7 linked regions of the Homo sapiens genome follow. The protein of the gene in region 1 purifies or fractionates together with the protein of each later gene. This does not show direct contact. Each region holds a gene or a part of one and is shown in the gene's direction. Other genes may lie near its edges.

The links.
Region 2: the proteins of ZNF346 (region 1) and GLYR1 purify together in Homo sapiens (co-immunoprecipitation; 2 studies listed by BioGRID and IntAct, with this or other methods). This does not show direct contact.
Region 3: the proteins of ZNF346 (region 1) and RBBP6 purify together in Homo sapiens (co-immunoprecipitation; 2 studies listed by BioGRID and IntAct, with this or other methods). This does not show direct contact.
Region 4: the proteins of ZNF346 (region 1) and U2SURP purify together in Homo sapiens (co-immunoprecipitation; 2 studies listed by BioGRID and IntAct, with this or other methods). This does not show direct contact.
Region 5: the proteins of ZNF346 (region 1) and ZNF768 purify together in Homo sapiens (co-immunoprecipitation; 2 studies listed by BioGRID and IntAct, with this or other methods). This does not show direct contact.
Region 6: the proteins of ZNF346 (region 1) and OASL purify together in Homo sapiens (co-immunoprecipitation; 2 studies listed by BioGRID and IntAct, with this or other methods). This does not show direct contact.
Region 7: the proteins of ZNF346 (region 1) and HP1BP3 purify together in Homo sapiens (affinity purification with mass spectrometry; 2 studies listed by BioGRID and IntAct, with this or other methods). This does not show direct contact.

Annotation. Positions count from the first base shown.
Region 1 is NC_000005.10:177,039,147-177,043,611, forward strand, and holds part of ZNF346 (zinc finger protein 346), read left to right. Parts: intron 1-1,979; coding exon 1,980-2,083; intron 2,084-2,631; coding exon 2,632-2,724; intron 2,725-4,465.
Region 2 is NC_000016.10:4,808,702-4,813,166, reverse strand, and holds part of GLYR1 (cytokine-like nuclear factor N-PAC), read left to right. Parts: intron 1-918; coding exon 919-1,081; intron 1,082-1,364; coding exon 1,365-1,544; intron 1,545-1,872; coding exon 1,873-1,997; intron 1,998-4,465. UniProt on the Homo sapiens protein: Cytokine-like nuclear factor with chromatin gene reader activity involved in chromatin modification and regulation of gene expression. Acts as a nucleosome-destabilizing factor that is recruited to genes during transcriptional activation.
Region 3 is NC_000016.10:24,555,935-24,560,399, forward strand, and holds part of RBBP6 (E3 ubiquitin-protein ligase RBBP6), read left to right. Parts: intron 1-373; coding exon 374-513; intron 514-3,570; coding exon 3,571-3,743; intron 3,744-4,465. UniProt on the Homo sapiens protein: E3 ubiquitin-protein ligase which promotes ubiquitination of YBX1, leading to its degradation by the proteasome.
Region 4 is NC_000003.12:143,032,211-143,036,675, forward strand, and holds part of U2SURP (U2 snRNP-associated SURP motif-containing protein), read left to right. Parts: intron 1-573; coding exon 574-736; intron 737-1,060; coding exon 1,061-1,140; intron 1,141-2,677; coding exon 2,678-2,765; intron 2,766-3,771; coding exon 3,772-3,894; intron 3,895-4,465.
Region 5 is NC_000016.10:30,523,204-30,528,200, reverse strand, and holds ZNF768 (zinc finger protein 768), read left to right. Parts: upstream 1-1,634; 5' UTR 1,635-1,787; coding exon 1,788-1,875; intron 1,876-2,149; coding exon 2,150-3,684; 3' UTR 3,685-4,197; downstream 4,198-4,997. UniProt on the Homo sapiens protein: Binds to mammalian-wide interspersed repeat (MIRs) sequences in euchromatin and promoter regions of genes at the consensus sequence 5'-GCTGTGTG-[N20]-CCTCTCTG-3', consisting of two anchor regions connected by a linker region; the linker region probably does not contribute to the binding specificity.
Region 6 is NC_000012.12:121,032,116-121,036,580, reverse strand, and holds part of OASL (2'-5'-oligoadenylate synthase-like protein), read left to right. Parts: intron 1-2,837; coding exon 2,838-3,120; intron 3,121-4,465.
Region 7 is NC_000001.11:20,739,766-20,742,307, reverse strand, and holds the end of HP1BP3 (heterochromatin protein 1-binding protein 3), read left to right. Parts: 3' UTR 1-2,042; downstream 2,043-2,542. UniProt on the Homo sapiens protein: Component of heterochromatin that maintains heterochromatin integrity during G1/S progression and regulates the duration of G1 phase to critically influence cell proliferative capacity.

The DNA of each region.
Region 1 (4,465 bases):
TCCCAAAGTGCTAAGATTACAGGCATTACCAATCGTGCCTGGCCACCTCTGACCCTCTTTTAAAAGTTCTGGGCCAATTTTGTTTATAGAGTCATTTCTCTTGGTTTTTCAGAGCATAGCTAAGACAGGCAAGGTCTTTCACAAAAATTTACCATTTAAAAGAAAAATGCAGAAATAAAAAGAGATCATTAGGGGCAGAAATACAGCCCTTCTGCCTAAAAGGGCTGACATAGGTAAGCTTTAGATTTTGTGGATTAAGGAGAGACATCTTAAAAGCTCCCCACCAAGAACCTCTTCCAGGGCATCGACTTTTTTTTTTTTAAGACAGGGGCTTGCTCTGTTATCCAGGCTGGAGTACAGTGGCACTAACATGGCTTGCCATAGCCTTGACCTCCTGAGCTCAAGCAATCCTTCTGTCTCTGTCTCAGCCTTAGCCTCCCATGAAGCTGGAACCACAGGCATGTGCCACCACCCCCGGCTAGTTTTTGGTTTGTTGGTGTGTTTGTTTCTATGTAGAGACAGAGTCTCACCATCTTGCCCAGGCTGGTCTCAAACTCCTGGGCTCAACCCATCCTCCCACCTCAGCCTCCCAAAATGCTGGGATTACAGGTGTGAGCCACTGTGCCTAGCCTTGACCACTTTTTGGCTGAGACCAGGAGATTAAAAATGTGGGCCTGCCCTCCTCTCCCAGTTTTAGACTCTGCCTCTGCCTCTGCCTCACATTGCCAGCGCCATGATAGAACTCATGCCTTGGCCGGGCGCGGTGGCTCACGCCTGTAATCCCAGCACTTTGGAAGGCCAAGGTGGGTGGATCACGAGGTCAGGAGATCGAGACCATCCTGGCTAACACGATGAAACCCCGTCTCTACTAAAAATACAAAAAAATTAGTTGGGCGTGGTGGTGGGTGCCTGTAATCCCAACTACTCGGGAGGCTGAGGCAGGAGAATGGTGTGAACTTGGGAGGCGGAGCTTGCAGTGAGCCGACATCATGCCACTGCACTCCAGCCTGGGTGACAGAGCGAGACTCCCTCTCAAAAAAAAAAAAAACAAACAAAAATGAACTTATGCCTTGGGAGAGATTTTACCTCCTCTTCTCTTCTCAAAAAGGTAAGACTGTTCTCCAGGCACAATAATTTAAGCACAGGTTAATACCATGTTTCATATAGTGTGGCACTTATATAATACGTTATGTGATTTTATTTTATTTATTTATTTAGAGACAGAGTCTAGCTCTGTCACCCAAGTTGGAGTTAGTGGCACAACCTCAGCTCACTACAACCTCTGCCTCCTGGGTTCAAACAATTCTCCTGCCTCAGCCTCCCGAGTAGCTGGGATTATAGGTGCCTGCCACCACACCTGGCTAATTTTTGTATTTTTAGTAGAGACAGGGTTTCACCATGTTGGCCAGGCTGGTCTCGAACTCCTGATCTCAGGTGATCTGCCCACCTCGGCCTCCCAAAGTGCTAGGATTACAGGCGTGAGCCACCACGCCCCACCCTGTTATGTGATTTTAAATGTTTCAAAGTCAGATCAAGAACAATGAGAAAAGTATTCCTTTTTCGAGTCTTTCAGTCCTCCTGATTCTATCTGGGAAGAAGTTTCAGTTGGGTGCTACCATATCTTAAAACCTCTCAGCACAGTTGCTGTTCTCTTCTTCCTGGGGAATGCTCCAAGCCTCATTTTTATCATATTTATTTTTATTGGTATCTGCTTAAGTTTATGATCTAAAGATTCCTTTTTAAAAGAAGTTCCTAAGTAAAGAAAGTTGGCATACATAAAATTATAAAATAAGTAATAGTGTAGGTGGTGTGAGAACACAGCATGAGTCACGGTGGCAGTAGGAAAGGCTGGCTGAGGTCTGCCAGTGTCCTAGTATGGCATCCCATCATTCAGTGCCTGTGTTTGAGGCAGGGTTCAAAGGCAGTGCTGTTGAGGTAGTGTTTGTCAACTCAATGATTTCTTGTTTTCCCCTCTATAGTGGAGCACATGATCCAGAAGAACCAATGTCTCTTCACCAACACCCAGTGTAAGGTTTGCTGCGCCTTGCTTATTTCTGAGTCCCAGAAGCTGGCACATTACCAGGTATGCCATCATACTTTTAGAACTGCGTTTCTTTTCAGACCTGGTGCCAAACCACTAATTCTCTCTGGCTTGCATGGTGAAGTGTAATTGCTGCTTAGCCACCCAGATGTTGCCTCCATGCATGTTGGCTTGTGACTTGAAGATTGACTTAATCTCCTTGAGTCTCATCTCCCCCATCCAAATCAGGATCATTATATGTGTATCTTCCCTTGCAGCTTGGCATAGCATAAAGTATGAGCTTTGGCTTTAAATAGATCTGACTTTAAATCAAAACTCTGCTACTCATCTTGAGCAAGAAACTTCATCATTTTTAGATGTAGTTTCCTCATCCATAAAATAGAAATGGTCATAATTTTCTCATAGATTGTGAAGATTAAATTTGGTAGCTGTAAAATGCCTTGCACAGAGCAGGAACTCAAACTTCCCTCACCTCCTCCTCAAAACTTTTTGTGAGGATGAATCAGATGAAAATCTCATAAGTGTTTTTGAGTGCCTTAAGTATGAAGTAGCATTTGGCTATCTTTGATCTTTCTCCTGGGTTTTTGCAGAGCAAAAAACATGCCAACAAAGTGAAGAGATACCTAGCAATCCATGGAATGGAGACATTAAAGGGGGAAACGAAGAAGCTAGACTCAGATCAGGTAATACAGCTGCCATATTGAGCCCACTTGCTTCATGATGAAGCCAGCCAGCAGGTTGGTGTGGTGAACAAGTCAGACTGTCTTGGCTTCAAATCCTGGCCCTGTTGTGTGACTCGGGCAAGTCTATTACTTCACAAAGCCTTGATTTCTTCCTCTATAAAAATGAGGATGGTAATATCAACTACCTTTCAGGATTTTTTAGAACTAAAATTGAGGGCAGATTTATAAAAAGCACCCAATTCAGAGCCTGGCACATAGTAGGGACTCAGTAATGGAGCTGGTATTACATATTACCGCCTAGTGGTTTGTTAGAGCAAGACAAGAGAAAATGGAAAGAAGCCAGGCTGCTTGCTTTCTTGAGGGCCAAGGAAAAGAACTAAGTTCAGCACTTGAATGTTTTGCATAAATAAGCAGAAGGAACACCTTTCCAAATGTCTGCTGTGATTGAGAGGTGATCACATGTGCTTTTTGGCTCAGAAATAATATGAGCATTATGCTGAAGCAACCCCCAATCCCTCAGGAGTACCATCTCATCATGGGAAGAGAAGTTAAGCAGACTAGGGCTCAAAGCTGGCTGTGTGTCTTACTGATCGGGTGAGTTTGGCCAAGTCACTTAACCTCTGTGAACTTCCCCCATAAAGTAGAGATAATGCCTACTTCTTAAGGGTATTGTGAGGTAAAATTTCAATTCCTAGTAGATGCTCAATAAATAAGAGTTTACTCTATAGACTGCTACCTCCTATTATAGTAGCCACAGGTCAGGAAGGTCCTTGTTTATCTCTTCTCAAAATTTACTGGACTCATCCCCTGGTTTCCCTTATTATTTATTTATTTATCCCTGGTTTCCCTCCTTTCTATTTCTCTATCTGTCTATTTGTGAGACAGGACCTGGCTCTGTTACCCAGGCTGGAGTGCAGTGGTGCAGTCACGGCTCACTGCAGCCTCAACCTCCCAAGCTCAAGTGATCCTCCCACTTCAACCTCCCAAGTAGCTAGGACTACAGGCACACACCACCACGCCTGGCTAACTGGAGTGCAGTGGCACGATCTCAGCTCACTGCAACCTCCACCTCCTGGGTTCAGGCGATTCCCCTGCCTCAGCCTCTGAAGTAGCTGGGACTACAGGCACGCGCCACCACACCCAGCTAATTTTTGTATTTTTAGTAGAGATAGGGTTTCACCAGGTTGGCCAGGCTGGTCTCAAACCTCTGATCTCAAGTGATCTGCCTGCCTCAGCCTCCCAAAGTGCTGGGATTACAAGTGTGAGCCACTGCGCCCAGCCGCCTGGCTGATTTTTTAAAAAATTTTTCGTAGAGACAGGGTCTCGCTTTGTTGCCCAGGCTGGTCTCAAATTCCTGGTCTCAAGTGATCCTCCCACCTCAGGCTCCCAAAGTACCAGGATTACAGGTATGAGCCACCACACCTGGCCCTTTTCTCACAATTTATAATTCAGAAAGGCAAGATAAACTCTATGACCCTGGGCAAGTTATTTTACATATTTGCACCCTATTCAGAGATCAGGCTTTCTGAGAGAGATGCTGGGATCCCTTTATGTAGTCTTGAAATACATGGTTTCCTAGCCTAATCATAATCAACAAGTAGAACGCAATGGGAGGCTGGGTGCGGTGGCTCATACCTGTAATCCTAGCAATTTAGGTGGCTGAGGCAGGCGGATTGCTTGAGCTTGGGAATTCGAGACCACCCTAGGCAATATGGTGAAACCCCGTCTCTATAAAAAATAC
Region 2 (4,465 bases), on another chromosome or scaffold:
ACGGTGAAACCCCATCTCTACTAAAAATACAAAAAAATTAGCCGGACGCGGTGGCGGGCACCTGTAGTCCCAGCTACTTGGGAGGCTGAGGCAGGAGAGCGGCATGAACCCAGGAGGCGGAGCTTGCAGTGAGCTGTGATCGTGCCACTGCACTCCAGCCTGGGCAACAGAGCAAGACTCCGTCTCAAAAAAAAAAAAAAAAATTAGCCAGGCATGGTGGCGGTTGCCTGTAGTCCCAGCTACTGAGGAGGCTGATGCAGGAGAATGGCATGAACCCGGGAGGCAGAGTTTGCAGTGAGCTGAGATTGCGCCACTGCACTCCAGCCTGGGCAACAGAGCAAGACTCTGTCTCAAAAAAACAAAACAAAAAAATTCCGGCCAGGCGTGGTGGCTCACTCCTGTAATCCAAGCACTTTGGGAGGCCGAGGCGGGCGGATCACAAGGTCAGGAGATCAAGACAATCCTGGCTAATATGGTGAAACCTGTCTCTACTAAAAATACAAAAAATTAGCCAGGCGTGGTGGTGGACGCCTGTAGTCCCAGTTACTCGGGAGGCTGAGGCAGGAGAATGGCATGAACCCGCGAGGCGGAGCTTGCAGTGATCCGAGATCGCTCCACTGCACTCCAGCCTGGGCGACAGCGAGACTCCACCTCAAAAAAAAAAAAAAAATTCCAAGTCAGTTGGGTTCCTGTGTGGAGACCCCAGCGTCTCATCACTGCTGTGATTCGGCCTGTGTGACCTGCACATGGTTAGCTCCTGAGTTTAGGTGTCAGCTAAAGGACCTTGGTATGGGTGGCCGTCCCCTCCAGCTCTGGAAGGTGATGAGCAGCCGTGGCCACTCAGCAACACTCCTTGAGTCCTGCCCAGAGAGCGCTGGGAGAGGGGAGGCCTCCAGAAGCTGTGACTTTTCTTTCCAGGTGATTGTGTCCAGGGGGGGGCGCTTTCTGGAAGCCCCCGTCTCAGGGAATCAGCAGCTGTCTAATGACGGGATGTTGGTGATCTTAGCGGCTGGAGACAGGGGCTTATATGAGGACTGCAGCAGCTGCTTCCAGGCGATGGGGAAGACCTCCTTCTTCCTAGGTAACACGCCTGCACCTGTCAGGCCTGGAGCCTGGGGCCACATCTCCTCTGTTTCACACTGATGACAGCGTCAGTCCCACACGGCCTTTCTGCCGGGGACCCTGGGGAAGGTTTCCTTTCACCTGCATAGTCAGTGCGTGGAAGGAGGAAGAGCCAGTCTGTCGGGGGCAGGTGAAGGGGGCCTCCCCTGGAGAGAGGTGGGTCTGAGCAGAGGTGAGGGTGGACAGAGAAGCCCTGTCTGTGGCATTCTTGGGCTGTGACCGTGAGTCTTTACCCTGGGCAGGTGAAGTGGGCAATGCAGCCAAGATGATGCTGATCGTGAACATGGTCCAAGGGAGCTTCATGGCCACTATTGCCGAGGGGCTGACCCTGGCCCAGGTGACAGGCCAGTCCCAGCAGACACTCTTGGACATCCTCAATCAGGGACAGTTGGCCAGCATCTTCCTGGACCAGAAGTGCCAAAGTGAGTTGTTTTTGGCCCCTCTTCTTGCATTTGGTGTTTGATTAGAGCAGGGTACTAGGTCAGGGATTTAGTGAGCGTGAAAGATGCCCCTCCCCAGTCAGTCCCTGACCCTGGCCAGAGGAGGTTCAGAAACACAGTGGGCGGGATTTGGGGATATAGGCTGGGAGCTGCAGCCCTCAGGTGTCTAAGGGTGAGTGAGGAGCCAAGAGGCCTAGGCTATGTGGAACTGAGCCCTGAGTATGTTTTAGGTACTGACACCTGGTGGACCGTAAGTAGTTTTTAGTTTCAGGTCCTTGGCTTTTGTCTGATACTGGCTTTTTCTCCTCAGATATCCTGCAAGGAAACTTTAAGCCTGATTTCTACCTGAAATACATTCAGAAGGATCTCCGCTTAGCCATTGCGCTGGGTGATGCGGTCAACCATCCGACTCCCATGGCAGCTGCAGCAAATGAGGTAGGGTAGATGTGGCCCAAGCCCCAAGGCCCTTCAGTTTCTTTTTCTTTCTTTTTTTTTTTTTTTTAACGGAGTCTCACTCTGTCACCCAGGCTAGAGTGCACTGGTGCGATCTCAGCTCAATGCAACCTCCGCCTCCTGGTTTCAAGCAATTCTCCTGCCTCAGCCTCCTGAGTAGTTGGGATTATAGGTGCCCACCACCATGCCTAGCTAATTTTTGTATTTTTAGCAGAGATGGGGTTTCTCCTTGTTGTTCAGGCTGGTCTCGAACTCCTGACCTCAGGTGATCCACCCGCCTCTGCCTCCCAGAGTGCTGGGATTACAGGCATGAGCTACCACGCCCAGCCATTCAGTTTCTTTTTCTTTTTCTTTTTCTTTTATTTTGAGACAGAGTCTTGCTCTGTCGCCTCAGGCTCTTGCCACCACGCCCGGCTAATTTTTTTTTTTTTTTTTTTTTTTTTTTTTTTTTTAGTAGAGACAGGGTTTCACCATGTTAGCCAGGATGGTCTCGATCTCCTGACCTCGTGATCTGCCCGCCTCGGCCTCCCAAAGTGCTGGGATTACAGGTGTGAGCCACTACACCTGGCCAAGTTTCTTTTTCTTTTATCGTTTCCTTCCCTCTACTTAGTTTAGCTTTTCTTTGTTCTTTTTCTTTTTTTTGAGACAGAGTCTCACTCTGTCGCCCAGGCTGGAGTGCAGTGGTGTGATCTCAGCTCACTGCAGCCTCTGCCTCCTGGGTTCAATAGATTTTTGTGCCTCTGCCTCCCAAGTAGCCTCCCAAGTAGCCTGGGATTACAGGCGTGCCCCAACCCGCCCTGCTAATTTTTGTATTTTTAGTAGAGATGGGGTTTTGCCATGTTGGCTAGGCTGTTCTCCAACTCCTGACCTCAGGAGAGCCACCTGCCTCAGCCTCTCAAAGTGCTGGGATTACAGGTGTGAGCCACTGTGTCTGGCCTCTTTGTTCTTTTTCAAACCCTTTAAAGTGGAATCTTAAATCATTTATTTTAATCCTGCTTTCTTTATAACATGAGTATATAAATCTTTAAATGTCCACTAATCCGTGTTAATTTGTTTTCTGATTTCTTCTTTGATCCATGAATTACTTAAAAGTTTATCTAGTGTTTGGGTTTTCCTAGATATCTAATGATTATTGATTTTTAACTTACTGCTCTATGATCAAAGAACATGCCCTGCCCTGTATTGGGTTTTTTTTGTTTTTTTGTTTTTTGTTTTTTTGTTTTTTTTGGAGACAGAGTTTTGCTCTTTCGCCCAGGCTGGAGTGCAGTGTCGCGATCTCGGCTCACCGCAACCTCTGCCTCCCAAGTTCAAGCGATTCTCATGCCTCAGCCTCTTGAGTAGCTGGGATTACAGGCACACACCACCATACACAACTGATTTTTGTATTTTTAGTAGAGATGAGGTTTCACCATGTTGGCCAGGCTGGGCTTGAACTGCTGACCTCAGGTGATCCGTCCACCTCAGCCTCCCAAAGTGCTGGGATGACAGGCATGAACCACCACAACCAGCTGCCTGTATGATTTTTTTTTTTTTTTTTTTTGAGACGGAGTTTCGCTCTGTCACCCAAGCTGGAGTACAGTGGCACGATCTCGGCTCACTGCAAGCTTCGTCTCCCGGGTTCACTCCATTCTCCTGCCTCACCCTCCTGAGTAGCTGGGACTGCAGGCGCCTGCCACCATGCCTGGCTAATTTTTTGTATTTTTAGTAAAGACGGGGTTCCACTGTGTTAGCCAGGATGGTCTCATTCTCCTGACCAAGATGTTGAAACCCCTATCTCTACTAAAAATACAAAAAATTAGCTGGGCATGGTGGCAGGCACCTTTAATCTCAGCTACTCAGGAGGCTGAGGCAGAGAATTGCTTGAACCTGGGAGGCGGGAGGTTGCAGTGAGCCTAGATCGCACCACTGCACTCCAGCCTGGGCAACAGAGTGAGACTCCATCGCAAAAAAAAAAAAAAAAAAACGAAAGCTGCTACAGCCTTCTCAGGCTTATTGTTTTCATGGTATGTATATTTTTCCATCCATTTCCTCTCTTATTTATGTCTAAATTATGGCTTTGATAGACAGTATGTAATTGGGGTTTGGATTTTTATCCATTTTGACAGTATCTGCCTTTTAATTAGCATGTCTATTAGCATTTTTCAAATGATGTTTTAAGCACTTAACACGTGCACTTTTTTTATATTTGAGACACAGTCTCACTCTCTTGCCCAGGTAAAGTGCAGTGGCACAATTATAGCTCACTGCAGCCTTGACTTCCTAGGCTCAAGCAATCCTCCCACCTCAGCCTCCCGAGTAGCTGGGACTATAGGCGTGCACAACTGTATCCAACTTCACATACACTTTCGAAAAGCTTTTTAGGGTAGAAGTTCCGCTTTCTTAGCTCATCTTCATAGAATTTGAATCTAAAAAAAAAACAACTGAAAAACATTTGTCTTTACCATATTATT
Region 3 (4,465 bases), on another chromosome or scaffold:
ACTATGGTATATCTTACTTTTTTTCCTTTGGAATTGTTCCTTAGCTATCTTATTTTTCTTGGTTAATACTGCCTTCTGTAGACAATGGCAAATGAGCATGGTCTCTGGAGCCAAATTTGCCAGGCTTCAAATCTTGGTTCTGGCACTTGGCTGAGTTTGGGCAAGTTACTTGATCTCTATAAGCCTGTTTTTTCTTCTCTAAAATGGAGATAAAATAGTACGTACTTCACATAGCAGTTACAAGGATTAAATGAGATCACATATGTAAAGCACTACAAGTAATATAGTAAGCACTGTATAACATTAGCTAATTTATTAAATAAAGATAACTGCTTTTTCTCTTCCTCCTCCTCTTCCTTTTTCCTCTGAATAGGATAAAAACTTTGAATCTGGTCCTAGGATTAAAAAGAGCACTGGAATTCCCAGAAGTTTCATGATGGAAGTGAAAGATCCTAATATGAAAGGTGCAATGCTTACCAACACTGGAAAATATGCAATACCAACTATAGATGCGTAAGTATGCAAATTAGGTATGACCTGTGGAGACTCCAGTCAGTCCCAGGGTATAGTGTTTTAATCTTGGGCTTGTAACTTTGCTACTTGGATTCCTTGAGAACTTTGTATACCAAAGCCATTAGTCTCTACATCTTGCATTTCTGTGAGGCTGCAGTCTGCTCCATTTAAAGCAAATTTAAAATGGATTTGGGGATTTTTTGTTACCAGTGAGTGCCACTTCCCTTGTAGTCTTCTAATTTTTTCTTTTTCTGTCATTCCCTGCTTTCTTCCTCATTCACATACATACTCCCACATAATCTTATTATATATGCTACTTGCATTTTTAAGTGAACAAAACAGATTGTAATCATTTTGAGAAACAGGAGGCTTAAGAATAAAAGCTCTGCATGATGTTGAGGCAAATTTAAGTGTCAGGCATAAATGAAATACTGAAGTAGCTTGAATAAGTTTGGATATGCCATGTGAGTCTTAAGATTCTCAAGTAAGGTTTATTTTATAAACCACTAGTTCAGATCAACTATAGCTCTATAAAACACCTTAATGCCTTTTTTTTTTTTTTTTTTTTTGAGACCAAGTCTCGCTCTGTCCCTTAGGCTGAAGTGCAGTGGCACAATCTCGGCTAACTGCAAGCTCCACCTCCCAGGTTCACACCATTTTCCTGCCTCAGCCTCCTGAGTAGCTGGGACTACAGGCGCCCGCCACCACGCCCGGCTAATTTTTTGTATTTTTTTAGTAGAGACGGAGTTTCACCGTGTTAGCCTGACCTTGTGCTCCACCCGCCTCGGCCTCTCAAAGTGCTGGGATTACAGGCATGAGCCACCACGTCTGGCCCTTAATGCCCATTTTTAATGTGTATTCAGATTTTATATTATGAACCAGTTTTTAATGAAATGGACAGACATGAAAATTCAGTGGCAGGGTTCAACTAGATAACCTCCCATTTTATCTGCTTTTATTAATGTAGTCAGTTACTTTTTTGATTACCTTCAACAGTTGTGATCTCACATACTATACAGCATAATATTAAGTGTTCTTTGGACTGCTGTTCTCTAACTTTGTTGAGCATAAGAATTTCCTACAAAAGTATGTTAAAAGGCTGGCCAGGTAGAGGGACCTTGGGCAAAAAAAAAAAAGATCCTGGTTGCTCCGCCCCCAATTTTGATTTAGAAGTTATGTGATAAGACCCTGATTCTACATTTTTAACAGGTTGTCCAAGAGATTGTGAAGTTAGGGGATCCTCAGGGCATCAATTTACAGAATTAGGTGTTCATGTTCTCAGTGAAAAAATACATACATATATAAGAACAGTTCCTCAGCTTCATGCTATAAATATTGTTGAAGTGTAGTGTAGTGAGCAGGTGGGGATGATGATGAAAATAGCTATGCCATAGAATGATATTGAAAAGATCTTGTGTTTTTGAATATGTACTTCAGCAAATAGTGTTTTCGTTCACAGATAAGAATGTTTTCCTAAACTCCCAACCCTGCTCACTTCCTCAACTTCACCCCCATCTATTTTTTATCAGTCACCATCCTGTGTTTTTGTGGTTCATCATTGAACAGTCTGTTGTTATGCTGTTTCTAATTCAGAGACATTTCATAGATGTTTCCAAATAACTTTAGCTTGAAATTGATTATTTTTACAGACACAATTAAGAGCAGACCGCTTCATCTATATTATGTAAAATTTTTAAGTAAAAATTTGTGTTGGAAAAATTAGTATCACCTGTAAACCCTAACTAATAATTAACTTCATTGCTTTTGAATGCTGAAATACAAATGCCCAATTGTGCCAGACACACAGCAAATACTGGGGAAAGATGGGAATCTAAATATTTTAAATGAAACTTTCACCCTCTTCACTAACACCACTGATAAGCAACTCAGACTCTTCTTCTGTTTCTTTTTCTATCCTCTGTTCTCCTCTTTTTTTCTTTTTTTTTTTTTTCTTTTTTCTCTCTTTTGGGCAGTGGGAGACTCCTCTTTCACAAATTGGGAACAATGGGGCATAAGCAAATTGATACTTATTTCTGGAATCGTGGTGATGTCTATGGAGCAACTGCAACACAAATAACACACCTAAGGTACCCTACTCTGTACAGCCGAGATTCTTTCATTTTCAGCATTGAGATAAACACACTCTGTTCCTGAATGAAATAGAAAGGGTTTCTCTAGGGATTCCTGTGTTTTGCAAATTTGCCTGATTACAGAGAAGATGGGGGTGTAGAAGCAGTGGTGACAAGTCTGAGAATAGCTATTTTTATTTTTTAATACTATATTTAATGCCCAACATTTCTGCAAAATGCATTTCTACAAAAAACTGGACCTAGAATGTCTAATGAGGTGTTACTTTACATTTTTGTAACACCGATTTTGATCATTTAAGTCACTAATGCTTCTTAATTGACTATAAATTGATTAACCTCTCTTAAAATACTAATAAGTAGATCATGGGTTTTGGTATCTCATTTTATTAATTATTTGTGTGGTAATGACATAATATTTCCCTTGAACTATCTTTCCTTAATTGTATAATGTCAGTACTAATTTTAATTTCCCGTCTTGTGGCATTTACTCCAATACCTTCACAGGTTTGAGAGACTTTTGGGTTATGGAGAAGGGGAGATTTTTTGGGATTTTTAATTTTAATTTTCATTTTTATTTTTTTCAAGAAACTTGATAGAGTAGGAAAAATTGTGATTATGGTGTTGTCTAAATTCAAGTCTTGTCTTTGTCACTTAAATAGAACTTTATGGCACAGAACATTTCGCTTTATTTCTGGCCCTCAGTTCTTAAGAGTGACGGGTTCTAAGATCCTTTTATTGTTTTTGTAGCATTTCTTTGCTTCTTTTTGTTATGCTTGTTTAGACTTTTGTGTCTTTGTTTAGGGTTAGGTTGTACATAATTACTCCCTTATTTTAGAAGATATGGTGCTTGTCTAAACTAATTTGGCATTGCGCTGAATTATGTGTTCCCATTATGTTATAGTAGAACATGTAGCATGAGTACTCTGCCTTCTTAACAATGGTAAAACATGAAAACTTTCTTTTACAGAGAAGCATATGCAATTGGGAAGAAAGAGAAACCTCCCTTCTTACCAGAGGAGCCATCTTCTTCCTCAGAAGAAGATGATCCTATCCCAGATGAATTGTTGTGTCTCATCTGCAAGGATATTATGACTGATGCTGTTGTGATTCCCTGCTGTGGAAACAGTTACTGTGATGAATGTAAGAAGTGCTGAATCTTGGAAGATGTATATTTTAGAATATTTGTATTTACTTGGAATGGCTCTTCCCAACCTCATATGTTTTAATAATAAAATAAATAATGTTGATGACAAGTGTTGATCAATGAGCATTAAGTAGTGAGAAGTCTGTTTTTCTTGCTGTATCTTTTTTAAACAATAACCTGTTTGTCCTTTTAAATTCTAGAATTGACTTCTGTACCTTCATCAGGGTGACTATACTGAGGTGTTTTTCTTAATATAGACTTTTTGTTTCCTGTATGTTTTAAGTGGTATCCAGAATTTTAAAACTTTTTTGGGCCTTAGATAATTCTGGAAATATTTTTAAGTGGTATCTAAATCTTTTTCCTGGATTGTGAATAGCTTATCCTAATATTTCTAAGTGTATTAACACCTGATTCCTGTAGACAGTTTTTGTTTTTTTTTTTTTTTTTTGAGACAGAGTCTCACTGTCTCCCAGGCTGGAGTGCAGTGGTGTAATCTCGGCTCACTGCATCCTCTGCCTTCTGGCTTCACACAATTCTGCCTCAGCCTCCCAAGTAGCTGGGACTGCAGGTGCCCGCCACCACACCCGGCTAATGTTTTGTATTTTTAGTAGAGACGGGGTTTCACTGTGTTAGCCAGGATGGTCTCGATCTCCTGACCTCGTGATCCGCCCACCTCGGCCTCCCCAAGTGCTGGGATTACAGGCGTGAGCCACCGCGC
Region 4 (4,465 bases), on another chromosome or scaffold:
TATAGGTGCCTGCCACTGCACTTGGCTAATTTTTATATTTTTAGTACAGACAGGGTTTCACCATGTTGGCCAGGATGGTCTTGATCTCTTGACCTTGTGATCCGCCTACCTTGGCCTCCCAGAGTGCTGGGATTACAGGCATGAGCCACCGCACCCAGCCAGTCTTTTCCTTTACAGAAAAAATTAGCCTGTCGTAATCCCAGGCAGAAGTGTTAAAGTAATAGACTTCCTTCAAAGAAGGGGAGTAAAGAACATGAAAGTTCTTCAGTATCATGGGATGGTAAGACTGGGGTGCTCTTAAAGACGCTTGAAGAAATGCGTATGATTTTAAATTTACTTAATTTGTAAGCTGAAAACATAATTGGAATCTTATTCTACAGAGTATTCTTATATAAATTCTTCAAAAAATTGTAACAATTTTGGGGGACACAACACAAATCAGACTGAATGTATTACAGTCTTCAGAATTATTTTATGTGAGTAGGTTTTAAAGAAATTAGTTTGTGAGCAAAAGCTACAATGGCATTTGAAATTGTATCTAAATATTTATAAGTTAAAACAATTTATGTTCAGACAGAGGGATAAATTGGAAGAAATCTTGCGGGGATTAACTCCAAGGAAAAATGATATTGGAGATGCAATGGTTTTCTGTCTTAATAATGCTGAAGCTGCTGAAGAAATAGTGGATTGCATTACTGAGTCGTTGTCCATCTTAAAGACACCCCTTCCTAAAAAGGTATGGGAATGAATTTTAAGAAAAGGGGAGATAGTTGACGTCTTTTGGGATTAGAATTGGTTTCCTTTTTGCACAAAGCACTTGACTGATGAGATTTTTCCCATGCAGTCTTATGTTATTTCTGCTTGGAAATTTAGGTTCATTAACATACAAGTTAACAAACAAGTTGAAATGTAAATGGGTTAACAAATTTCATCTCTGCCAGAGTCATAGTTGTGGTGATACTGAGCTTCATATAACTCTTCTAATTAGTAGCCATAATTAAATTATAGCTAAACATTAGCCTTATATTAACCTATTTTGTGTTATCTTTTGATATTATAGATTGCCAGATTATATTTGGTTTCTGATGTTTTGTACAACTCTTCAGCCAAAGTTGCTAATGCTTCATATTATAGAAAATTGTAAGTATAATGATATAACTGATATTCCTGAAATAAAGTATTTAAGGGTAAGGAGTTCAGAAAAGAGGATTGTTTTGTTAACATCCTGCAAGAATAAGAAGTACAGTCAGCCCTCCATGTCTGTGGGTTCCTTATCCATGAATTCAACCAACCATGAATTGAAAATATTTGAGAAGAAAAATTGTATCTGTACCGAACCTGTACAGACTTTTTTCCTTGTCATTTTCTAAACAATATAGTATGAAAACTCTACATAGCATTTACATTGTATTAGGTATTGTAAGTAACCTAGAGATGATTTAACAGATGGGAGGATGAGGATAGGTTACAGGTGAATATTATGCCATTTTCAATCAGGAACTTGAGCATCTGTGGATTTTGGTGTCCATGGGAGGTCTTGGAACCAGTCCCCCCATGGATACTGAGGGAAGACTAATTTGAATTTCTTAATGGTTTGTAGAATTTTTTAAAAAATTGGCTTACACTTAAGCTAAATTACCAATTTTTTGGAAAGATTTTATATCATATCACTTTCTTAGCTATTGACAGTATAACAAATAGGTGTTAAAGAGAACTTTATTGCATATCTAGCTATTCATATAATAAATAGAAACAGTGTATATACTGGCAAACATAAGAGACCAAAGACATACTATTAACTATAGAATCTGTGTTCTCTTCTGATCCTCAGCATATTGATTTTAGTTCATTGTAAATGTTTCCTAAGGCAAAAGGAAGTTACGTTGCTGTATTATAATTAATGTATAATTCAGCTGGGCACAGTGGCTCACGCCTGTAATCTCAGCACTTTGGGAGGCCAAGAAGGGCTGATTACCTGAGGTCAGAAGTTCGAGACCACCCTGGCCAACGTGGTGAAACCCCATCTCTAGTAAAAATACAAAGATTAGCTGGGCGTGGTGGTGTGCCTCTGTAATCCCAGCTACTCGGGAAGCTGAGGCAGGAGAATCGCTTGAACCCGGGAGGCGGAGGTTGCAGTGAGCCGAGATGGCACCATTGTCCTCTAGCTTGGGTGACGAGCAAAACTCCATCTCAAAAAAAAAAAAGTATAACTTTTCCTCTGTTCCCCAGAGCTCTCTTTCTGTGTTTATTTTATGAATTAGGCAAAGGGAAGCTTTTCCCTAGGATGTTGCTCTGAAAAGAAATTTAGAGAGCTGGATCCTACTCTTAGGTCTGCTATTAGTTTTTTTGCCTTGGACGAGTCACTTTTCTAAGTTTTCTGTTTTATAAAATAAAGAAATTGGACGAGATGGTTCAGCATATCCTAGATATAACGTTTCTTGCTCGTAAAGGGAACTAGTAGGGACTGTTGGGGAGTTTGTAGGAGAAAAATTCAGAGTAATAAGAGTTCAAGCAATTCAGTTACGGTTTTAGAGTTTAAACACCTAGTTTTTGATTTTTAATAATTTCTTGATTTGTAAGTATTTTAAGTTCAGGAGGGGTTTTCATTGGCTGGCATGCTAAAAGGGAAAGGAATTTTAAACATTTTATTTTAAAGAATGTGTTATTTGAATTTCAGTTTTGAAACAAAGTTATGTCAGATATTTTCAGACCTCAATGCCACCTATCGTACAATTCAAGGCCATTTACAATCTGAAAACTTTAAGGTACGTTTATTGTTTTACTATTTTTGCCCTAGTGTTTTAAATGGGTGGGGGGAGGGCATTGAAGGGCTAGAAAAGTGCATAAGACAAGTATGAGACATAAATTTAAAACTTAGATGTTACAGAAGTTACTGTTTTAAAATTCTGTCGTTTTTGTTTTTATCAAATCAAAAATTTAAAAGATACTATTTTGTCAGGTTTAATTTTAGTTTTAAATATTGTTTAAAAATTATAAATGTTAGTCTTTTTTCATAAAACATACAGAAGAATCACTTGTTTTGTAATGGTATATACTATTTGGCTGGATTAAAGACATACATTTTAATCATGTTTAGAAAGTCTATTCTGTTACCAATTTTTTTATAACCTCTTAAGCTCTAGACCAGTGTTAAGAAAAGCCAAGTGTAGTACTTCACTTATAATTGAATAAGTAAATATGCTTTCATGGGAAGAAGACTTTTTTAAGAAAAATTTTTAGTTTCGGAAGATGCCCAGTGACGCCACCATTTAGGGCATTCAGACAACTCCCATTTTAAAAGTTTTTGACCTTAAATTTTGACCATAAGTTAGAATTTAAAGACAAGTTTCAGGAAGATACAGAGTAAAGTATTAGCCAGAATTAGGAAGTACTTTATTGGACCATAAGGGATTCAGGTCAAAACTTGGCTACTTTGGTTTCCAGTTTTAGTAAGTTTCTATGTAAGTGTTTCTGGAATGTGGCTCATGGGTAGTACTAATGGTATGGGAGCTGACCTTAGGTGGTAAAGAGCAAATAGTTACTGTTTATTTTTCATTATATTTATTTTTAGGGGTTTTTTTCCTTTTAATTAGAAGGTGACATTGATTTTTTTAAAAAATATGGTAATGATATATAGTTATTTTCTTTAAAGTTTAAAAAAACATCAGTTTAAAGGCAAATTTAGCAAATCTTGATGATCATTCTCATGAACTGAAATTTGAGACATATAGCCCAAAATAAAAGTTTGTTGTCTGTTTCCTGTTTCTTTAGCAACGGGTAATGACTTGCTTCAGAGCATGGGAAGATTGGGCAATTTATCCAGAACCATTTTTGATCAAACTACAAAATATTTTCTTAGGACTTGTAAATATTATTGAAGAAAAGGAAACAGAGGTAGGCAGTCTGTATTTGTCTGGTTGTTTTTAAAATTCGTTTCTGGGGTGGAGGTTTCTTGGAGTTGTTCTGTGTTACATATGTGAGGTACATTTCTTTGTGAAAAATATCTATTGCTTACCATTAAGTAGTGGATTTTTATTGCTGGAACCCAGAAGTCAAAATTACATGTAACAGGAATTCTCTGTCTTGTGTCCTTATGTGAAAATTGGTGAGTGTTTTTTTTATTTAATGATATAAGAGTTATGATATATTGTTAATAGTAGAAAATAAGCAAGTAATAGAGCAATATGTATAGCATGACTTTATTTTGTTAAAGATAGCTATATAAGTAAAATATGTGCATGAAAAGATGCATCACATGATAGCAGATATACATCACCATTCTGTTGTTTTTTTTCTTTTTTACCTCCTAAATAATTACTGAATCCTTAATGTTTAATTCTGCCATGCTAGTCAAGCTATTATGTTTTCACTTTCACTCCTGCAGGATCTTCCTAATTGGCCTTACTGTTGCAACCCACGTGGTCCTTGTTTCAGTTTCTTAAATGTGTGTTTCCACCTACCATTG
Region 5 (4,997 bases), on another chromosome or scaffold:
CTCTTTTCAGGAAGGAGAGGCCATCCTTCCTCCCAAACATTCTCTTCCCTTCATTTGTCTGGGTAGGCGACAAGAAAACACGATCCATGGCTCCTGCTCACACAGGGGCATCGGGCTCGTTAACTGTCAAGAACGCTGCCAAACTTGTTTCAGCACGAAGCGTAGAAAAAAAAGACAAGAACTGGATGATATTAAGTTGTCTGTCCAGGCTCACTTCCTCAATTCAAAGCTGCGCCCGAGGCAGTGTTTCTCAGGTTCCCTTCCTCTGCAAGACTCCATTCGAGTCAGACAAGACTGGAGAGTTGTTAGATGCCTCGAAGGCCAGATGGTTCTCTCAGTCCAATTCTCCTTTGTATCACCCTCACCTGGAAGGAATCCTGCCTCCCTGTGAGGAAATCTAACAACAGGGACTAAGGCTGCCAGGGATTGAGTTAAACTCAGGCGCTGGGGAAGGTGGAGGGGAGAGGCAAGGGGTGTGAGGCTGACGAGGAGGAAGGGTGTCTGTCCTCAGATCTTCTGGCTTTCATAAAACATAATGGAGGCTAAGTGGGGGCGGGAAAAGTTTTGATGGCACAGGCCGGGCTGGAGGGGAGATGCCTGGCACCTCCCTCCCACTACCTCCTGAAGGCGCTTCTGGCCGACAGGGGAGGCGGACCCGACCACAGCACTCCCGGCCAATCAGGAAGGCGCCTGGCGTTCCCTGGCGACCATTAACGCCCAGCCGTCCGCGGGGTTGGAGGAGGCGGGGCGGCTAGAGCACGAGCCCCATCGGCCAACCGCCGGGCTTCCTGGGGCGGAGAAGCTGTGCCTCTGGGAGCCGGGGCGGGGCTGTCTCCTTGGCAACTATCCTAGCCCTCGAGGAGGGAGGAGGGAGGAGGAGGATCAGGGGAGCCGAGCTGGGTGGGGGCCGGAGGAACGGGAGCGGGCGCGCGCAGGTGCCGGGGAGCGGAGTTCCTGGAGGGGGTCCCAGGCTCAAGGACCTCGGCGAGGCCAAGGGGAGTCCGTCCCGGTTCCCGAGGCGCTGCCGGAGCTGACCCGGAGGCCCGGGAGGGGAGGGAGCGAGACACCGCCCCCGCTGGCGCCGGGAAGCGTCGCTCCTTCTCGCTGACCTTGGTCTCGCTTGTCGCCTCGCCCTTGGCCACACGCACCGACGACGCGGGGCCCGGGAGATGGACAGACGGGCCTCTGGAGGGACGGAGACCTAGAACATAGGCACACACACTGCCCCGGTAGCCCCGCGGGCTCCGGGGCGTCCGGTCCTCACCCACCCCGTGGCCGGGCCCCTCCAGCCCAGGGTTAATGCCAACGAGTTTCCACCTCCAGCGGCTCCTAGAGAGGCCGCGGCGCGAGCCGGCGGGGGGACCTGGCCGCGGACGGACACTTCCTGTGCGGGGGAGGGTGGGGGGGTGCTGGGCGGCCGTTGGACAGTGCAGCCCAGCCCGGGGCCGGGGTCCAGAAGGTGGGGGCTCGGGCGGGAGCGGGGGCCGGGGGCCGCCGGGGTAGTCGCGAAGCCCCTCATCCCCGAGGCCGCGACGCGCGGGGGCCAGTGAGGGCCACGGGGAGGCCGAGACCTTGGGAGGGGGCGGGGCCGCGGGCAGGGGAGGGGCCCGGCGCGCTGGAGAGGCGCGGGGTCAAGACGTCCGGCCTCGGGGGCCCGGGCTGGGCCGCCGAGTCCCCTGGGCGGCGCTGAGCGGGCGGGAGGCGGGGGCCCGCGGCTCGGGGCAACCGAGGCCGGGTCGCGGGATCGGCCGCCATCGCCGCCGCCGCTGCACTGGGAGCCCGCGGGGATGGAGCGGGAGGCGTTGCCGTGGGGCCTCGAGCCCCAGGATGTGCAGAGTTCTGACGAAATGAGGAGCCCCGAAGGGTACCTCAGAGGTGAGGAGGGAGCGCCCGTCCGAGGAGTGGACTTGCGCGCAGGAGAAGGGGCTGTGGCTCCAGGGAGGGAGCGAGGGCCCGGGGCTGGGACACCTGGGACTCGAAGGAGGGGCCGGCGGGGACTGGGGTGTCTTGGGTCAGCTGAGGGGGGCGTGGGAATTTCAGCACTTGTCTAGGGGCCAGCGACCCTGCATGTGAGGTGGGAGGTGTGTGGTTGCTAATGGACCAAATGACCTTCCAGGTCTCACACGATCTGGATTCTCTCATCCTGCAGGCAACATGAGTGAGAATGAGGAAGAGGAAATTTCTCAGCAAGAAGGCAGTGGGGACTATGAAGTCGAAGAGATACCATTTGGGCTTGAACCCCAGAGCCCTGGGTTTGAGCCACAAAGCCCAGAGTTTGAACCCCAAAGCCCCAGATTTGAGCCTGAAAGCCCGGGGTTTGAGTCCCGAAGCCCTGGGCTTGTGCCCCCAAGCCCTGAGTTTGCACCCAGAAGCCCTGAATCAGATTCTCAGAGCCCTGAGTTTGAATCCCAGAGCCCTAGGTATGAACCCCAAAGCCCTGGCTATGAACCTCGGAGCCCCGGGTATGAACCCCGGAGCCCTGGCTATGAATCTGAGAGCTCTAGATATGAATCCCAGAACACTGAGCTCAAAACCCAAAGCCCAGAATTTGAAGCTCAAAGTTCCAAATTCCAGGAAGGTGCGGAGATGCTTCTGAACCCCGAGGAAAAGAGTCCTTTGAATATCTCCGTAGGAGTTCACCCCCTGGACTCCTTCACTCAGGGGTTTGGGGAGCAGCCCACAGGGGACCTGCCCATAGGGCCACCTTTTGAGATGCCCACAGGGGCCCTGCTGTCTACACCGCAGTTTGAGATGCTTCAGAATCCCCTGGGTCTCACAGGAGCCCTTCGAGGTCCAGGTCGGCGGGGTGGCCGGGCCAGGGGTGGGCAGGGCCCTCGGCCTAACATCTGTGGCATCTGCGGGAAGAGCTTCGGGCGGGGCTCCACCCTGATCCAGCACCAGCGCATCCACACCGGTGAGAAGCCCTACAAATGTGAGGTCTGCAGCAAGGCCTTCTCCCAGAGCTCTGACCTCATCAAACACCAGCGCACCCACACTGGCGAGCGGCCCTACAAATGTCCCCGTTGCGGCAAGGCCTTCGCCGACAGCTCTTACCTGCTTCGCCACCAGCGCACTCACTCTGGCCAGAAGCCCTACAAGTGCCCACATTGTGGCAAGGCCTTCGGCGACAGCTCCTACCTCCTGCGACACCAGCGCACCCACAGCCACGAGCGGCCCTACAGCTGCACCGAGTGCGGCAAGTGCTATAGCCAGAACTCGTCCCTGCGCAGCCATCAGAGGGTGCACACCGGTCAGAGGCCCTTCAGCTGTGGCATCTGCGGCAAGAGCTTCTCCCAGCGGTCGGCCCTTATCCCCCATGCCCGCAGCCACGCCCGGGAGAAGCCCTTCAAGTGCCCTGAGTGCGGCAAGCGCTTTGGCCAGAGCTCGGTGCTGGCCATCCACGCCCGCACCCACCTGCCAGGCCGCACCTACAGCTGCCCCGACTGCGGCAAGACCTTCAATCGCTCCTCCACTCTCATCCAGCACCAGCGCTCCCACACGGGCGAGCGGCCCTACAGGTGCGCCGTGTGCGGCAAGGGCTTCTGCCGCTCCTCCACGCTTCTGCAGCATCACCGGGTCCACAGTGGCGAGCGGCCTTACAAGTGCGATGACTGCGGAAAGGCCTTCTCCCAGAGCTCCGACCTCATCCGCCACCAGCGGACCCACGCGGCGGGCCGGCGCTGACCTGGGGCCCCAGCAGGGGTGGGAGGTGTGGGCAGAAGATAAGGGGCCAGGGAGCTAGAGGAACCTTTAGGGAGGATAGTGGAGAAGCCGCAGGAGAATGGAGGAGCTGAGGATGCTGGAAGAAGAGAACCAGGGTGGAGGAAGTGACATGCCCTGGAGACTTGTGGGAAGTGGGTTGGAGGGAGGCCAGGCCGGCAGCGGGAGGCCCTGGGAGAAATGGAGAGAGGTCAGCGGAGGGCTGGCCTCAGCCGCGGCTCCTTGGTGGGTGCCTGGCTTGGCAACTGCTAGAGCAGGGAGGGGGGAGGGCAGGGGATTACCTAATTAGAGTGGGTTAGCTTAGATTGGTAGCTGCTGAAACTCTCGTTGAGTCAGGAGCGGGTAAAAGGTAGGTGGGGTGGGGAGTGGGGCCCCGGGGTGGGGCCTGGGCCTCTGCGTGCAAACCCCAGCCTCCCTCTTCTTCCTCAGGCTTTGGAGCCCCTGAGTTTGAGTTCAATAAAAACTTTATGTGGTAAACGAGACTTGTCCTTAAAATGTGTGCGTGCACAGCGCCCTGGGAAGTGGGAGACACCAGTAGTAGCCTAGGGCCTTATCCGGGAAGTGCTTTGCTGTTGCTGCTGTTAGAAAGCGGGTCTTGCTGTGTTGCAGCAGGCCACCGCACCTGGCTGGAAGTGCTATTTGTTTCTTTTTTTTTTTTTCTTTTTTTTGAGACGGAGTCTTACGCTGTCACCCAGGCTGGAGTGCAATGGTGTGGTCTCGACTCACCGCAACCTCTGCCTCCTGGGTTCAAGTGATTCTCCTGCCTCAGCCTCCCAAGTATCTGGGATTACAGGCGCCCGACACCACACCTGGCTAATTTTCACCATGTTGGCCAGGCTGGTCTCGAACTCCTGACCTCACGTGATCTGCCTGCCTCAGCCTCCCAGAGTGCTGGGATTAGAGGTGTGAGCCACTGCGCCTGGCCTGTTTTTCTTTTTTTTTAATTTTGAAGGCAGTATCTTGCTCTGTGGCCCAGGCTGGATTGCAGTGATGCGACCATCGCTCACTGCAGCCTTGACCTCCTGTGCTCACGTGATCCTTCTGTCTCAGCCTCCTGAGTAGCTGGGACTACAGGTACGTGCAACCAGGCTCAAATAAGTTTTTATATTTTAATTTTTTGTAGAGACAGGGTTTGCTATGTTGCCCAGGTTGGTCTCAAACTCCTGGCCTCAAAGGATCCTCCTGCCTTGGGTTTCCAAAGTGCTGAGAATACAGTTGTGAGCCACAGAGCCCAGCCAGAAATGTTCACTTGAGTAGGGCTGCAATATTGCACCAGC
Region 6 (4,465 bases), on another chromosome or scaffold:
AACTCCTGACCTCAAGTGATCCACCCACCTCGGCCTCCCCAAATGCTGGGATTACAGGTGTGAACCACCACGCCCGGCCAAGAATGAGTTTTTACGGCAGGAAATGCTATTTACCTAAGCCTCAAATACTTCCTGCACATCATAGCCACTTTTCCTCTTGAAACCACTAAATGGTAGCAATCCCCAGTGAGCCATGACTAATGAGGAATAATATATCTTATTTAGAGTCTAAACCCTCCCGTTCCCCACCCTCTGAAAATCTAGTGAGCGGAGCTGGTCCACATAAGGGAATGCTCGTCTTCAAATGAATTGTGCTTAAATAGGTTTAAAACTGAAGCAAATCAGGAAGCCTGTTCTGGATGTGTTCTTTTCTCTCTGCCTGGATCTTACCAGTGGGAAAGGCAGAAAGGGAAGTCTACGCCAGGCACAGTGGCTCACGCCTGTAATCCCAGCACTTTGGGAGGCCAAGGTGGGAGGATTGCTTGAGCCCAGGAATTCGAGACCAGCCTGGGCAAAATGGTGAGACCCCCGACTCTACAAAAATATATATAAAAAATTAGCTGGGCATGGCGGTGCATGCCTGTAGTTCCAGCTACTCCGGAGGCTGAGGTGGGAGGATTGCTTAAGCCCAGGAGGTCGAGGCTTCAGTGAGTGAAGATCGTGCCATTGCACTCCAGCCTGGGCAACAGAGCAAGACCCTGTCTCAAAAAGAAAGGGAAGTCTAGACTGGCCTTCGGGGGGAATGTGTCCTTCATTCACACACAGGGTGCCATCTCCAACCCTCTCCCAGGGGGTGGAGGTGCTGGGTCTGAATGCCCATGGTCCCTTGGAAGCAGGGCCTGGCTCACAGCCTTGGGTCACGAGGAAGAAAGAGGCGGAAGAACCATCCCCTACTTGAGTTCTGGCTCTTTCTCTGACTCTGCTGCCTTCTGGCTGGGAGACCATGGCAAGCTCCTCACTGCCTCAGTCTTCTCATCTGTACATTGGAGATAATTCTCCTAGTACCCACCTCAATACAGGAAGTGAAGGCGTTTTTTTTTGTTGTTTTGTTTTGTTTAGATGGAGTCTCGCTGTGTCGCCCAGGCTGGAGTGTAGTGGCGAGATCTCAGCTCACCACAACCTCTGCCTCCTGGGTTCAAGCGATTCTCCTGCCTTAGCTTCCCCAGTAGCTCGGATTACAGGTGCACACAACCACACCTGGCTAATTTTTGTATTTTTAGTAGAGATGTGCTTTCACCATGTTGGCCAGGCTGATCTCGAACTCCTGACCTCATGATCCGCCCACCTTGGCCTCCCAAAGTGCTGAGATTACAGGCATGAGCCATCATGCCTGGCTGGGAAGTAAAGATTAAAAGGAATAATATGTATACAGGGCTCTTATGGGTGCCAGACACAGGGCGTGCTCATGTCATCCAGCATCCGTGCTCATGTCACACAGGGCATGTTATATCATCCGGCAACAGCTGGAATCTGATTCTTGTGCAGTGACTCCAACCACCAAGAAAAGTAGCCTTCTGGGGGTCTGATGCCTCCCTAGCAATTCCACCTCCCAACACAGAATGAGAAGGAGAGGAGGCCAGAGAGTTGTGGCGCTTTGCATACCAGAGGCACCAGGGCCTGGAGAGCTCATCTAGAATCTCAAAACATCGAAAAATCCCTTCTCGACCTCCTTCCATTACTAACAGGAAAACTGACCCCCCGGCAGCAGAAGAGATTGTCTAAGTCAGCTGGATAATGAGAAGAAAGAGAAATGTATTGCTGACTTCCTGTGTGCCAGGCACCCCACCAAACGCTTGGCATACATTATTTCATCTGATCCTCCCAGTAGCCCAGTGACTCTTGTTCCAACATTACTTTCATTTTACAGATGAGGGTCTCAGGAGTCAGAATGTTTACCCAGCTAAGAAACAGGGAAGAGTCAAGATCTTTTTCAGGCTGCTCCATTTCACAGCCTATGGCTCTTAAATCCACCAGGCAAACTTGCTCCTTGCTTTATAATGTCATGAAATTATTCAGCCCCACCACCACCCCCAGAATCCTCAAACAACCCTATGGAGTAGATGCTACCATTCCTCTGGAGTAGGCCTTACTCTGTGGGTAAGAAGACTGGGTCTCAGAAGCAATGCAGTGTAGTAGATAAGAAGCTGGGCATTTGGGGAGGCCAAGGGGGCAAATCGCTTGAGTCCAGGAGTTCGAGACCAGCCTGGGCGACATGCCAAAACCCAGTCACTACAAAAAATACAAAAATTAGCCAGGCATGGTGGCGCAGGCCTGTAGTCCTAGCTACTTGGGAGACTGAGGTGGGAGGATTGCTTGAGCCAAGATCATGCCACTGCAGCCCAGCCTGGGCAACGGGAGTGAAACCCTGTGTAAAAAAAAAAAAAGAGTCTGGGCTCTGAGGGCTGCAAACTGCGAGACCTGAGACAAATGACTAATGAGGAGAAAGACAAATGTGTTGCTGACTTCCTGTGTGCCAGGCACCCCACCAAACCCTTGGCATACATTATTTCATCTGATCCTCCCAGTAGCCCAGTGACTCATATTCTGCCATTGCTTTCATTTTAGAGATGAAGGTCTTAGGAGTCAGAACATTTACCTAGCTAAGAAACAGGGAAGTGTCAAGATCTTTTTCAGGCTGCCCCATTTCTCCATCCCATGTCTCGAGATCCTCCAGACATCTCAGTTTTCTCACCTGTAAAGTGTGGGTATTAGTACTACCCACAACCCATCCCTCAGCGGGTGGTGAGCATTCAGTGAGACAGTGCATGTGAAGTGCCGCAGGGGTTGCCTGGCTCATGGCAGTGGGCCTCAGGGTGACGGGGCTCTGTGTTCTGCAGGTGGGCTCCTTCGGGAATGGCACGGTTCTCAGGAGCACCAGAGAGGTGGAGCTGGTGGCGTTTCTGAGCTGTTTCCACAGCTTCCAGGAGGCAGCCAAGCATCACAAAGATGTTCTGAGGCTGATATGGAAAACCATGTGGCAAAGCCAGGACCTGCTGGACCTCGGGCTCGAGGACCTGAGGATGGAGCAGAGAGTCCCCGATGCTCTCGTCTTCACCATCCAGACCAGGGGGACTGCGGAGCCCATCACGGTCACCATTGTGCCTGCCTACAGAGCCCTGGGTAAGGGGAGGGGAAGCTCACCCGACTCACACACTTGCCCACCCCAGGAGACTTCCCAGTGTCTCACCTTTACTCATGGCCACGTGCACACACCCACATTTATTCATTTCATCTGTGTCCTATGCTTGGGGCTGGGTTATTGCAGTGCACAGGATTAACTCAACTCTGGCTATCATATTGCTCAACTTGGAATACAGAAATTGACCAAAGAATTGCAGAGATAAATACATGATTGCAGCCTGGGCGCGGTGGCTCACGCCTGTAATCCCAGCACTTTGGGAGGCCAAGGCAGGTGGATCATGAGGTCAGGAGTTGAAGACCAGCCTGGCCAAGATGGTGAAATACCATCTCTACTAAAAATACAAAAAATTAGCTGGGTGTGGTGGTGGGCGCCTGTAATCCCAGCTACTCAGGAGGGTGAGGCAGAGAATCACTTGAACCCAGGAGGCGGAGGTTGCAGTGAGTCAAGATCGCGCCATTGCACTCCAGCCTGGGCAACAGAGCAAGACTCCGTCTCAAAAAAACAAAAAACAAAAAAACAAACAAAAAAACATGATTGCAAATGGTGTAAATGCTCAGAGAAAAAGAATGGGGTGGCCTGGGTAACCACAGAAAGGGTGCTCAGGAAGTGACTTTCTGGGGAAACAACATTCAGGAGGCTCTGACACCCAGTGAGGGGAAGGAGCTAAAAGTGGGAGTGGGGGTCTGTCACTGCATTTTATAGAAGCAGATCCTAAGACATGGATGTGAGGATACGCAGTTTATTTGGGTATTCCTCCCAGGAAACACCGGTAGGGAAGTATGGAACTGAGATGGGAAAGGCAAGAATTCAATACAACGTGCGTCCATGGGCAAGTCACCACCCTGAGCTTCATGTCCTGGGAGAACTCACAGTCCCATTATGGAGCGAACCTCTTCGGGATCCCAAGTGGGACGCTGGCGTGCTTACTCACCAGCTTCCCAGCCGTCACTGGTTGGGGGCTGCTTTGGGAGCACTAACTCACTGGCCCCTGTTGTTTGTCCTCGGGCAGAGTCCTAGGTGTTTGAAGTAAAACCTACATGCTGCAAGCCCAGATCCTAGAGGTTTCATCTCATGTGCTAACTCCTATCAGCTGTAGTGGCTGGCTGCGTGGAGTTGCTCTTTGGAGAAGGTATAAGAGACAGGATCTGATTTTAGCAAGGAAGAGAGTGCTGGGATGTCTCAGTGATGTGTACCATGGAACTGGTTCCTGGTTCTCCCTATGAGTTTATATATATATATATTTTTTGAGACGGAGTCTCGCTCTGTCGCCCAGGCTGGAGTGCAGTGCCGTGATCTCGGCTCACTGCAACCTCCACCTCCAGG
Region 7 (2,542 bases), on another chromosome or scaffold:
AAGTAATTGTAGTAATTACTCCTGTGCTCTCTAGCAAGTAATGATTCTTAATAGTATGGATGTTAGGTACCTGTGCTCAGAATTCTGTACTCTTCTGGAATCAAAAGTTGGGAGATTTTGGTTGGTTTCTTTGCTTTATGATACTGCTTTTAAAGAGACTTACTGAATAATCACCTGGTGGCTGTATTGCACACCAGGCACTTAAGCACAGGCTGAGAAGTTTAGATCATTTAAAGTTTCTTCCAACTCTAACGTTCTGTTAACTATAAGGACAGTTTGTTTCAGTGTGATGTAAAGGGAAAAGACAGGAAGGTCATCGCACTCTTCCACGAACATCCACAACTGTCAAAGACATACGCCTTACTTACATTGAGATAAAAGAATGTTTGATTTTTCCCTTCCAGGCATTCCAAAGGAGCAGAACACATTTATAATTTTTACTTCCATGTTCAGAAAGGGGAACAACAAACCCCAGAGGTAATCCCAGAAATCTCTAGCATGGATCAATAGCTTCAGTACTCTGTTGGTGGCTTAGTGACCTCATTTACAGTGTTTCATACACTCTGAAACTACCTACAAGCTACCTTTGATAAATGAGTCTCAGAAAGTGCTGGGAGAGAGATTGTTGGCTTCTTAACCTACAAAATGAGGAAGGAAAGATACTATTGTTGAGAAATGTGGAGACCTTTCCTTAGCACTATGACAGAAGCATTCATTGCACATGGATTCTGACTATGCATCCACATGGACTTAATTAAAGGAAACCTGGTCCTGTATAAATCTTAGGAAACAGGTGTATGTTTTAATCATGTCTTTTGGGTATAATTAACAGGAAAATGACATGAAAACAAAACTAAACAATCTGCTAACACCTTTTGACATTTGTTTTTTCATCATTGCTGTTTTTCCAAATTTTGTTAGCCCTTGTCAAGGTTTGCTAACCAATTCTTAATTAATACTTACTTTAAAGAGCCTGTGAAATTATTCTCTCTCAGGCTGTGACCCTCTTGCCATCTTGATACGTCATGAGAACGAAACTCACCAGCCATGTTCATTAAATACTGCATTTAACTAAGAGAAACTTTAAAAATTTGGGATTATAGTTAAGGTCTCCTATCTTTGGAACCTGATTAATTTATCTTTCTTTGGATTAAGCAAAAATTCTAATTTTAGCTATGAAAGAAAAGAAATTCTATTCTTAATTGGAAAAGACCATTAAACTGTTTCCCCAGAGGTTCTGGTTGACATTACTTTCTAGCATGTAGATTTTGCTTTTGCATTTTCATGGTGGAACAGATGGTCACTCACTTCTGCAGAGCCAAAGCCAAGGAAGCAGAACTGTTGAAGTTTTGGCTTAGGAACCACTTGACAAAGATTTGTTTAGAAGCCATTACAGATGGTTAAACAGTACCCCTAATCAGCTGCATTATTTTCTTAAGAAATTAATCTCTACCGTCTTTATAACTATATTCTTTTACTTATTATTTTTTTGAGATGGAGTTTGCTGTGTCACTAAGGCTGCAGCGCAGTGGTGTGATCTTGGCTCACTGCAGCTTTGAACTCGTGTGCTCAAGCAGTTCTCCCCACCTCAGCCTCCCAAGTAGCCAGGACTACAGGCAAGCTAATAAATGCCTGGCTAATTTATCTTTTCTAGAGATGGGGCCTCACTGTGTTGCCCAGGCTGGTCTTGAACTCGTGGCCTCACGTGATCTTCCCACCTGGGCTTTCCAAAGTGCCAGGATTACAGGCGTGAGTCGCCATACCTGGCCCTATTCTTTCTTCTGTTCTTTTCCACAAGACTGTTAACTTCAGTGGCTTTTTTCCTGTTGGAAAACTTTCTACCTTTGATGATTTAATTTTATCAGCTTTTTAACTGTTTTAACTGTTCTTAATTCTGTCTTGTCAACCACTGGTATGTCAAAGGAGGCCTCAAAAGGCTGAAGCGATTTTCCTCAAAAATTACAACTCTTTTTTTTCCTGATATTGTATATAATGTATAATTAACACTGTTCACTATTAAATCTTTGCTTAGCAAAAGAGAACTCTGTGGTGCCTAGAGTATGTCTCATAAAGTATAGTTGTAAGTTTGGCTTATTAATGTAAGTAGTAATAGTCATAACGATTAACACTAGCTGAGCTTCTTCCACATCGGGCTCTGTACAGATACTATTTTTATTTTATTTTTGAGATGGAGTCTCACTCTTTCACCCAGGCTGGAGTGAAGTGGTGTAATCTTGGCTCACTGCAGCCCCCGCCTCCCGGGTTCAAGCAACCCTCCTGCCTCAGCCTCCCGAGTAGCTGGGACTACAGGCATGTGCCACCACGCCCAGCTAATTTTTGTATTTTTAGTAGAGACAGGGTTTCACCAGGTTGGCCAGGCATATTACGAATTCCTGACCTCAGTTGATCTCCTGCCTTGGCCTCACAAAGTGTTGGAATTACAGGTGTGAGCCACTGTGCCCAGCCAAGCACATGTTTAAGAGAGCAGAGGGCTTGGAAATGAAATTATTGCCAACTTTGCCAATAGTCAAGTCAGTGTGGC